Regions from separate parts of the Homo sapiens genome. Here region 1 is linked to region 2. Evidence: fine-mapped expression QTL. A gene starts in region 2. The other region holds a variant in brackets. All regions are shown on one strand. Distances are from middle to middle.

Region 1 (5,241 bases), 150 kb before region 2:
AAAATAAAAATCTCTTCTATGGCCATCTGACCTTTTTGATCCCTGATTTTGTATATTCATATTCTCTTTCTAGCCCAAAACTTATTAGTCTATTTCTTGCCTTTTCTCGAAGAACTAGCTCTTGTATTTGTTGTTTTTATCTGTGAACTTTTTTCCTTTTTTTTTTTGAGACAGAGTCTTGCTCTGTTGCCCATGCTGGAGTGCAGTGGCGCCATCTCGGCTTACTGCAACCTCTGCCTCCCAGATTCAAGCGATTCTCCTGCCTCAGCCTCCCGAGTAGCTGGGACTACAGGCGTGTGCCACCACGCCCAGCTAATTTTTGTATTTTTGATAGAGACGGGTTTTCACCACGTTGGCCAGGATGATCTTGATCTCCTGACCTCGTGATCTGCCCACCTAGGCCTCCCAAAGTGCTGGGATTCCAGGCGTGAGACCCTGCGCCCAGGCTTTTTTCCTTTTTTTTTTTTTTTCTAAACCCACAGCCAACATCATATGTGAACTTTTTTTAAAAACATGAAAACATTTTTATTTTTCTGATATGCCTTTCAAGTATAATATAGACTTACAGAATTTGCCTTTCCAAGAGATTTTCAGACTTGCTGAAGAGATTTATCTTTCCTTCTGGGCTCAAGTGATCCTCCAATCTTAGCCTCCTAAGTAGCTGGGACCACAGGCATGCACACTGTGCCCAGCTAATTTTTAATTTTTTTTTTTATAGAGACAGAGTCTCCCTGTTTTGCCCAGGCCAGTTTCAAACTCAAGGTGCTCAAGGCGTCCTGCTGCCTTGGCCACTCAAAGTGCTGGGATTACAGGTGTGAACCACCACACCTGGCCAAGATTTATCCTTGACCATAACACTGACTGAAATGGAATCTAGAAAAAATAAATTTTATTATGGGAACTATACTCTTAGGTATTAAAATAATATAGTTAGTAGTTCATAATTAAATGAAGAAAAAACTCACAGGATGAGAGAGAAAGAAAGAAGCATACCCCAATCACACATCCTGGTACAGTTTTAAAGACAGATAATGGTTGCAGTCCAGGAGAGAGAAGGGTGCTGGGGAGTACCCTGCTGAAAACAGCATGCTGGCAGTATTTCCAGATGACAAACTCCTGTCCCTTATGAGACTCTTGCAAAACTTAATTATTTACAGGAATATATGTCTGTCTGGTAAAAATAATGATATAAAACTTCTAATATGTAAGCTGTGAAGGTTTCAAAATTAGGTAGTTTTCTCTTTCTGGTTCTGTGGATTTCTTCGTGTAATATTTACTTTTGTTTCCATCTCAAGTCTCTGAACACTAACTGCCATTCTCGTACCACCCTCATCTCTCATCCTGTGCTTCAGGTTTTCTGTGGAGTCCAAAGACACTTGACAGCTATGAGTAACATTTTATTGTTGTTGACTTTTTAAAAAATTAATAAACTTGGCCGGGCGCAGTGGCTTACACCTGTAATCCCAGCACTTTGGGAGGCCGAGGCGGGTGGATCACAAGGTCAGGAGATCGAGACCATCCTGGCTAACATAGTGAAACTTGTCTCTACTAAAAACACAAAAAATTAGCTGGGCTTGGTGGCAGGCGCCTGTAGTCCCAGCTGCTCGGGAGGCTGAGGGCAGGAGAATGGTGTGAACCCAGGAGGCAGAGCTTACAGTGAGCCGAGATCACGCCACTGCACTCTAGCCTGGGCGACAGAGCAAGGCTCCGTCTCAAAATAAATAAATAAACTTTATTTTTTAGAGCAGTTTTAGGTCTGCAGCAGAATTGAGTGGAAAGTACAGAATTTCCCATACACTCCTGCCCCGCCCCTACCACACATGGTATGCCACACTATCCACATCCTGCACTGCAATGGCATATTTGCTAGAATCAGTGAACCTGCATTGACACATCATCACCCCAAATCCATAGTTTGCATTAAGTAGGGTTCACTCTTGATGTTGTGCATTTTATGAGATTTCGACAAATGTATAATACTTATTTACCATTGTAGTATCATACACAATAGTTTCACTGCCCTAGAAATCTGTGTTCTTCCTGATCATCCCTCCCTACCCCATCCCTGGATGACCACTAATCTTTTTGCCATCTCCATAGTTTGACCTTTTACAGAATGTCATATAGTTGGAGTCATATAGTATGTAGCCTTTTGAGATGAGCTTCTTTCACTTAGTAATAAGCTTCACTAAATAATATTAAGTTTCTGCCATGTTCTTTTCATGGCTTGATTGCTGATTTCTGTTTAGCACTGAATAATATTCCATTGTCCGGATGTACCAGTTTATTTATTCACTCACCTATCAAAGGACATCTTACCTTGGTTATCTTATATTTATTAATAACTGCCAGACTCTTGGCAGTTATTAATAAAGCTGCTGTAAATGTCTGTTTACAAGTTTTTGTGTGGACATATATTTTTCATTTATTTGAGTAAGTACCAAGGAGCCTGACTGCTGGATCATATAGTAAGAATATGTGTAGTTTTGTGAGGAGTTGCCAAACTGTCTTCCCAAGTGTCTGTGTACCATGTTTGCATTCCCACTGGGAATGAATGAGAATTCCTGTTGCTCCACATTCTCCTAGCATTTAGTGTTATCAGTGTTTTGCATTTTGGCCATTCTAATAGTGTGTAGTGGTATATTGTTTTAATTTGCCTTTCTCTGATTACATATGTGAACACCTTTTCATATGCTTACTTGCCATCTGTGTATCTTCTTTGGAGAGGTGTCTGTTCAGGTCCTTTGCTCCTTTTAAAATCCAGTTATTTATTTTCTTATCAAGTTTTAAGAGTTCTTTGTATATTTTGTATAACTGTCTTTCATCAGATATACTTTTGTTAATATGTTTTTCCGAGTCTGTGGCTTATCTTCTCATTCTGTTGACATTGTCTTTTACAGAGCAGAAGATTTCAATTTTAATGAAACCTAGCTTGTTAATATTTCTTTCATGGATCATACCTTGGTGGTTTTGTATCTAAGAAGTCTTCATCGGCCAGGCGCGGTGGCTCAAGCCTGTAATCCCAGCACTTTGGGAGGCTGAGGTGGGCGGATCATGAGATCAGGAGATCAAGACCATCCTAGCTAACACGGTGAAACCCCGTCTCTACTAAAAATACAAAAAATCAGCTGGATGTGGTGG[C/T]GCTCACCTGTAGTCTCAGCTGCTCAGGAGGCTGAGGCAGGAGAATAGCTTGAACCTGGGAGGCAAAGGTTGCAGTGAGCTGAGATGGCACCACTGCACTTCAGCCTGGGTGACAGAGCGAGACTCCATCTCCAGAAAAAAAAAAAAAAGTCTTCGTCATACCCAAGTTCACCTAAATTTTTTTCTCTGTTATCTCCTAGGAGTTTTATAGTTTTCTGTTTTTACATTTAGGTCTATGACTCATTTTGAGTTTTATTTTTGTGAAGGGTATCAGGTCTACTTTCATTTTTTTCCATACGAATGTACAGTTGTTACAGCACCATTTGTGGAAAAGATCATCTTTGCTCCATTGTATTGCCCTTGCTCCTTTGTCACAGATGAGTCGACTATAGTTATGTGGGTCTATTTCTAGGCTCTTTGGTCTGTTGGTATTTTTGACAGTACACCACTGTCTTGATTACTGTGGCTTTATTGTAAGTATTCAAGCCAGCTTGTGTCAGTCCTCCAAGTTTGTTCTTCTCCTTTAATGCTGTCTATCCTGAGTCTTTTGCCTTTCCATATAAACTTTAGGATCAGTTTGTCAATATCCGGGAAATAACTTGCTGGGATCTGATTGGGATTATATTGAATCTATAAAGTTGGGAAGAACTGACATATTGACAATATTGGGCCTTCCTGTCCATGAAGATGGAATATCTATTTAGTTCTTCCTTTATACGTTTCATCAGAGTTTATCGTTTTCCTCATTAGATCTTGTACATATTTTGTTAGATTTGTATCTAAGTAGTTCATTTTGGGGGTTGCTAATGTAAATGGCAATATGTTTTGGATTCACATTGCTGGTATATATGAAAACTATTGGCTTATGTATATTAACCTCGTATCCTGGAACCTTGCTATAATCACTAATTAGTTCCAAGTTTTAGATCTTCTACATACATAGACAGTCATGTGATCTGCAAAGTTTTATTTTTCCTTCCCGGGTCTCTATACCTGTTATCTCCTTTTCTTATCTTATTGTGTAATCTTGCTTTGTTCCTAATCTTAGCAGGAAAGCTTCAAGCTTTTCATCATTAAGTAAGATGTTAACTGTTTTTTGTAGATATTATCAAGTTGAGGAAGTTCCCCTTTATTCCTAGTGTGCTGAGGCTTTTTAATCATGAATGGTTGTTGATTTTGTCACATGCTTTTTGTGCATCTATTTATATGATCATGTGATTTTTCTTTTTTAGCCTGTTGATGTGATGTATTACATTAATTGATTTTCATATGTTGAACTAGCCTTGCATACCTGGGACAAATCCCACTTGGCCGTAGTGTATAATTCTTTTTATACATTGTTGGATTTGCTTTGCTAATATTTTTTAGAGGATTTTTGCATTTATGTTCATGAGAATATGGGTCTTTAGTTTTCTTTATTTTTTAATTAATTTTATTTTTTGACACAGAGTCTTCCTTTGTTGCTCAGGCTGGAGTGCAGTGGTGCGATCTCAGCTCACTGCAACCTCCGCCTCCCAGGTTCTCCTGCTTCAGCTTCCCAAGTAGCTGGGATTACAGATGCCTGCCACCACACCCAGCTAATTGCTGTATTTTCAGTAGAGACAGGATTTCCCCATGTTGGCCAGGTGGTCTTGAACTCCTGACCTTAGGTCATCCACCCGTCTTGGCCTCCCAAAGTGCTGGAATTACAGGCGTGAGCCACCACGCCTGGCCTCATTCTTTTTTTTGAAGATGTTGCCCAGGCTGGCCTTGAACTCCTAGGCTGGAGCCATCCTGCTGCCTCAGCCTCCCAAGAAGCTGTGATCACAGGCACATACCACTAGGCTCAGCTTAGTCTTCTTTTTTGTAATGTCTTTGTCTGATTTAGGGTAATGCTGAGCTTATAGGATAAGTTAAAAAGAGATTGTTTCTATCTTTTGGAAGAGATTGCGGATAATTGGTGTAATTTCTTCCTTAAATGTTTGGTAGAATTCCCCAGTGAACCCATCTGGGCCCAGTGATTTCTGTTTTGGAAGGTTGTTAATTATTGATTGAATGTATTTAATAGAAACAGGCATGTTCAGATTGTCTATTTCTTACGTGAGTTTTGGCAGGTTTTGT
Region 2 (5,241 bases):
ATTGCAGTCAGTGTGTGGTGGAGCACACAAGAGTCCCTGGCTTCAGTCCCCAAATTGAACGTGCTTTATCACGACTTTAGAGATCCAAAAAACACTCACATACATAGACATACCTTACATAGACATAATTACTGAAGTTACACACCAAGTTCAGGAAGACAAAAGCAAGAGTCCAACTAGAACACAGTACTGAGAGAGCACAGAACCAGGAACAGCCTTGCTCTTGCACAAGGGTGGGAAGAAGAGTTCTTATAATCATGTTCACCATCCCCTCTCCCCAAGGAACAGGTCATCTCCATGTACCTGTGTCCCAGATCTAAACAGCAATTTCATTCCACTAGGTTAAGGTGTTTGCCCATGGCTGAGACACCTGCCGGAGAGGAAATGGGGTTTCTGTGGGAACCACTAACACCACAGCGTGAATGTGTTGATCAGGTTCTCCCTGACAGACTCTTTGAGGAAAACAATGCCATCTCAGTCTGTTCTTTAAAGGAGAGACAGGGTGGGATGAGGCTGTAAGGAAGGTAGCGGGTGGGGACTGAGGGAAGGCAGGGGTAGGAAGTAGGGTGCACACAGGCAAACAGAGAGGTGTGGCTCCTGCTGAGGCCACCCTCCAGCAGGTGGAGGCAGGAGTCAGAGAAGAGAATCTGAGGGTAGAGCAGTGTTGTTGGTGGTAGGAGCTACCCTGTCCCCTGGTTGGCTTTCTAGATGGGGATGGCAGGTCACCTCTTGGAAATACAGGGGCCATCTGATGTGGATTGATGGCTGCCTAATCTGTTGGCCAGTTTCTTCAGGTTTTCAGTTCAAGTACACGGAAGGGTCATGAATGCAAATGCCTGCCATGCACGCTGTATCAAAAAATGAAGCACATTAGAAACTTCCACTCATCCTCCTGGTGGGTTTCAGTAGGTTTTTCTCTCCTTGGCAAAAACCGGTGCGTGAACCGCCCGTCAACACCACCTGCTGTTTCCTTTACACAGGAGGCGGTGGGAGGGGAGGCGCTTCCAGATCTCCTGACACAAAGGGCTGCCCACCTCCCTGGTCCTTTACCCGAACCTTCAGGAGGCAGACGACACACACACTAGCCAGCCACTCTCTCCAAGGCAAGGGGAGGGGGACAAAAAGCAATTTTGAGATTTGTACAGTGCTTGCCAGGTCCTTCAAAAATGACTACCGGCCGCCCATGGCTCTTGCACAGCGGGTGGGAGGAAGAGTCCTTGTAATCCACCTCTCCCAAGGAACTCCTGCGCGAGGTTTCAGATTCCCCGCCTGCAGGCTATGGCTGACTTCCCCGTATCCTGTGTGACGTGGGATGTGTGGCTTCGCGCAGGTAAGGCTGGAATACAGGTGCCTGGAGGGACACCCAGAGCTGCCCAGGCACTTCCCGGCGGCTGCTTCCTTTGCACTTTGCACTTACAGGTGCACTTATAATAAAAACACCCTCCCTTCCACGCTCCCCTGGGCCCTCCCATCTCTCCTTCCTCTTCCACGCTCTCCTGGCTGTTGAATGTTTTCCACTGAAGGAGTCTAGTCTGTCCACCTAGGGGGCTCTCCCTCCCTCGGTCCAGGGCATTCGCGGCTCACAGGTCAGCTCGGGCAGAACCGCCCTGACCACCTATGAGCTCCTCGGGACACCACCCCAATGCCAGGGTGAATCGTCCTTACACCCTCAGTCCTGTCCGAGCGGCCTGATCCTACCTGTTTCCCAGAAACTGCTACGCGAAGCTTCCCCGCCGGGCTCATCCAGGGCGGAGGGGTCTGTCCCTGACGCAGACTGGGGGCGGGTCCGCAAAAGCGGGCTGAATGAATGAACGCAGCAGGGCTGGGGCCCCCTGGGGCTACAGGCCCCTGCTATTTGGCCCGCCCTGTGGCCCAAAACACTGGACTTGCCCCCCACCGGTCAGCGGAGCCCAGACATCCAGGGAGCCCTAATGGAGCCTGGACAGGAAGGCAGCAGGAGGTGGGACCCGGGGTGCGAGTGACCCCGAGGCCGTCCTCCGGAGCGCAGCGCGCCCGCGTGGGGGAGGCCCGCCTACAGTCGGTGATCCCCGGCCGCCCCCGCCAGCGCCCCGGCCCGCCGCTTACCATGCACCGCGCGCTCCGCCACACCCACGGAGACGAGTGCCCTTTTCCGGGGAGCAGGCGGCAGCCGGTCTTTTGGGCTCCCCCGCCCCGGCCGGCGCCACCCCGGCCTCCACCCGCGGGATACGACCCCACGATTCCCTAGGGCCTGGGCTCCGCCCCATGCACGTGGCGTCACAGGCTGGGCGGGGGGGCGCACCCAGCCGCGCATGCGCAGGCGGGAGAGGAGGTGGGGGTCGGGGGACCCAGTTGCGCAGGCGCGGGCGGAGTATGGGTGCTCAGCTGCGTAGGCGCGATGGCCTTCTTTTCTTTCTGCAGGTGGCCTTGCGGTTTTCTCCAGTCCACAGCCGGGCTGGCGTCGGCCCAGAGAGGGGGGCTCGGCAGTCTGGTTCCCCGAGCGTCTCATGGCGGGCCCTCGCCAGATTCAAGGGGTTCCCTTGGCCAGTTTCCTTACGGCGCGGCGGAGCTGGCCCTCGTCGTCCCTGGTAGGGGGCAGCCTCACAGCCTGGACCGGCCTGTGCAATTTCCCCCATCCCTCCACGTCTACATTTTATTTTTTTCTTTTTCTTTTTTTAGGACAATGCATGATGGAAATGCAGCCACATCATAGCAGGCAGGTTCATGAAATCTGCCCTCCTCCCACCGTTTCTTGACCCCATTTTCTTATTTTTTTTTTTAACAGGTTCTCACCCAGGCTGGAGTGCAGTGATGTGGTCTCAGCTCACTGCAACCTCTGCCTCCCGGGTTCAAGCGATTCTGTTGCCTCAGCTTCCTGAGTAGCTGGGATTACAGGTGTGCGCCACCACGCCTGGCTAATTTTTGTACCTTTAGTAGTGACGAGGTTTCGCCCTGTTGGTCAGGCTGGTCTCGAACTCCTGACCTAAGGTGATCCGCCTGCCTCGGCCTCCCAAAGTGCTGGGTCTATAGGCATAAGCCACCACACCCGGCCCTTGACCCCATTTTCTGTCTTCCTAGAAATCACCAAGGTTGCAACTCCTGACTGTCCTGGCTCACAGGCTCCAGCTTACTTAAGGACCCCACGGTGGGGGCTGCCCACTTGCACACCTATGCTAGGCGCCCTCATTCCCGCAAGGGCCAGAGCCCCTTCCCGGCCCATGGCGTCTGGCCAAGGAGGTGTGGGTGCGCCCCAGCCAGGCCTGGTCCTAGAGGACGGCCCCACCTGCGCACTGGGGCATCTGGGAGAGCTATTAGTGGAAGAAGCCCAGGTTCCTGAAGCACCAAGTGGGCAAGAGTTTATTTTCAGGATGGGACGCTTTTGAGGGTGAATAAGTGCTAGCTGTATGGGATGCGGGGACAGTACACAGGCCCGGCCTGGCAGCCGGGCAATGCGGTGCCTGTTGGAAGGTCGCCCACAAGCACCTGGTTGGACACTGCCACTGAGATTTGGTTATTACAGAGGTTAGCCTATGCGGGCCTTCACTGATGGACCTTGAAGTGTTTCCCAGTTGCTTTGGGTTAGGAATAATGTGACTGGATCCCGTGGATTGTCTTTGTGCATGCATGTGGGTATATCTGTCAGAAATATTCTTAGAGGTGGAATTGGCTATGGTGGGATATGTCCTTTAAAATAATATATTAGCCAAACGTGGCTAAATTGCCCCCCTTAGACACTGTACTAATTTACACTCTGGCAAATAATGTGTAAGACTGTGGGTTTCCACACATCTTCACCAGTGGGGTCTTTCCAAACTTTTGGATCTTTCCCAATCCAATAATGACAAAACTATATCTCATGGTTTTAATTTACACTTCCTAGTATTTTGAGATCCTGTCGTGAAGTGGTGATGGCCCTGTTTCTGCCTGCTGCACTTGGCAACATGTGTTATCACTTCCTTTCTTTTCACCACTTTTTACTCTTAGAGTTTCTAGAATTTGTGAAAGTAAAATCTTTTTGCTGGCATGGGCTTTTGTGTGTATTATACACTGCTTGGAAAGGTCTTGCACCACATCTTCCCTTCGTAGATTGTTTCTCAATGTTTAATACTCAGCTCAAATGTCACCTCCTCAGACCATTTTATCTAGAATGGCCTCCTCTAGTTATTCTCTGTCACCTTTTATGTTATTTCCTTCATAGCACTCATCACACTGTAACCACCCAACAGCTTCTTCTTGCCTGTCGCCCAGATAGAGCCAATTTTTCAAGATGGGAATTGCAATAAAGAGTTCGATACACATAGAGCTGGCTAACCAGGAGAGCAGAGGCTTATTACTCCTCAAATCAGCCTCTCCTCAAATTCGGAGTCTAAGGAATTTTTTGGGGGGGGTTTGTTTTTGAGACAGTGTCTTGCTTTGTTGTCCAGGCTGGAGTGCAGTGGTGCAGTCTAGGCTTACTGCAACCTCCACCTCCTGTTCAAGCGATTCTCATGCCTCAGCCTTACAAGTAGCTGGGATTACAAGCGCACACCACCATGCCCAGCTAATTATTTGTATTTTTAGTAGAGACGGGGTTTCACCGTGTTGGCCAGGCTGGTCTCGAACTCCTGCTCTCAAGTGATTTGCCCTCCTTGGCCTCCCAAAGTGCTGGGATTGTGCCAGTCTGGAGGCTAGGGTTTTTAAAAGATAGTTTAGCAGTCAGGGGGCTAGGGAATGGTGAGTGCTGATTGGTTGGGTTAGGGATGAAATCCTGAAGAGATGAAGCTTTCGTCTTGCTCTGGGTTAGTTCCTGGGTTGGGGTCACAAGACGAGATAGCCAGTTTACCAGTCTGGGTGGCTAGTCCATCACAATGTGGGGTCTGAAAAATACCTTGAACACCAATCTTATGTTATATAATAGTAATATTATCTATTGGAGCAATTATGGAGGTTAGGAATCTTGTGGCTTCGGGCTGCATGACTCCTAAGCCATAATTTTTTTTTTTTTTTTTTTTTGAGATGAAGTCTTGCTCTTGTCCCCCAGGCTGGAGTGCAATGGTGTGATCTCGGCTCGCTGCAACCTCTGCCTCCCGGGTTCAAGCAATTATCCTGCCTCAGCCTCCTGAGTAGCTGGGATTACAGGCACCTGCCACCACGCCCGGCTAATTTTTATATTTTTAGTAGAGACAGGGTTTCACCATGTTGGCCAGGCTGGTCTTGAACTACTGACCTCAGGTGATCTGCCCACCCTGGCCTCCCAAAGTGCTGGGATTACAGGTGTGAGCC

What was found. PIP is the estimated chance that this variant, and not a neighbour inherited with it, causes the effect. A credible set is the group of variants that fine-mapping cannot tell apart.
Region 1: its variant is the best candidate, but not a certain one, in a credible set for the expression of ENTPD6 in whole blood (TOPMed, PIP 0.86).

Annotation. Positions count from the first base shown.
Region 1 is chr20:25,343,136-25,348,376 of GRCh38, reverse strand. The region is part of intron 1 of ABHD12 (abhydrolase domain containing 12, lysophospholipase); the gene reads left to right. Among named protein-coding and RNA genes, the nearest start is that of ABHD12, 45 kb to the left of the region's middle. The variant C/T (reference allele first, on the strand shown) is at 3,142.
Region 2 is chr20:25,192,712-25,197,952 of GRCh38, reverse strand. It overlaps ENTPD6 (ectonucleoside triphosphate diphosphohydrolase 6), which reads right to left and starts at 2,241. Exons shown (of 15, transcript NM_001247.5): 1 at 2,086-2,241. It overlaps LOC101926889 (a long non-coding RNA gene), which reads left to right and starts at 1,061. Exons shown (of 6, transcript NR_109994.1): 1 at 1,061-1,330. RefSeq lists enhancers at 516-565, 1,096-1,245, 1,626-1,695, 2,546-2,785 and a silencer at 1,986-2,405.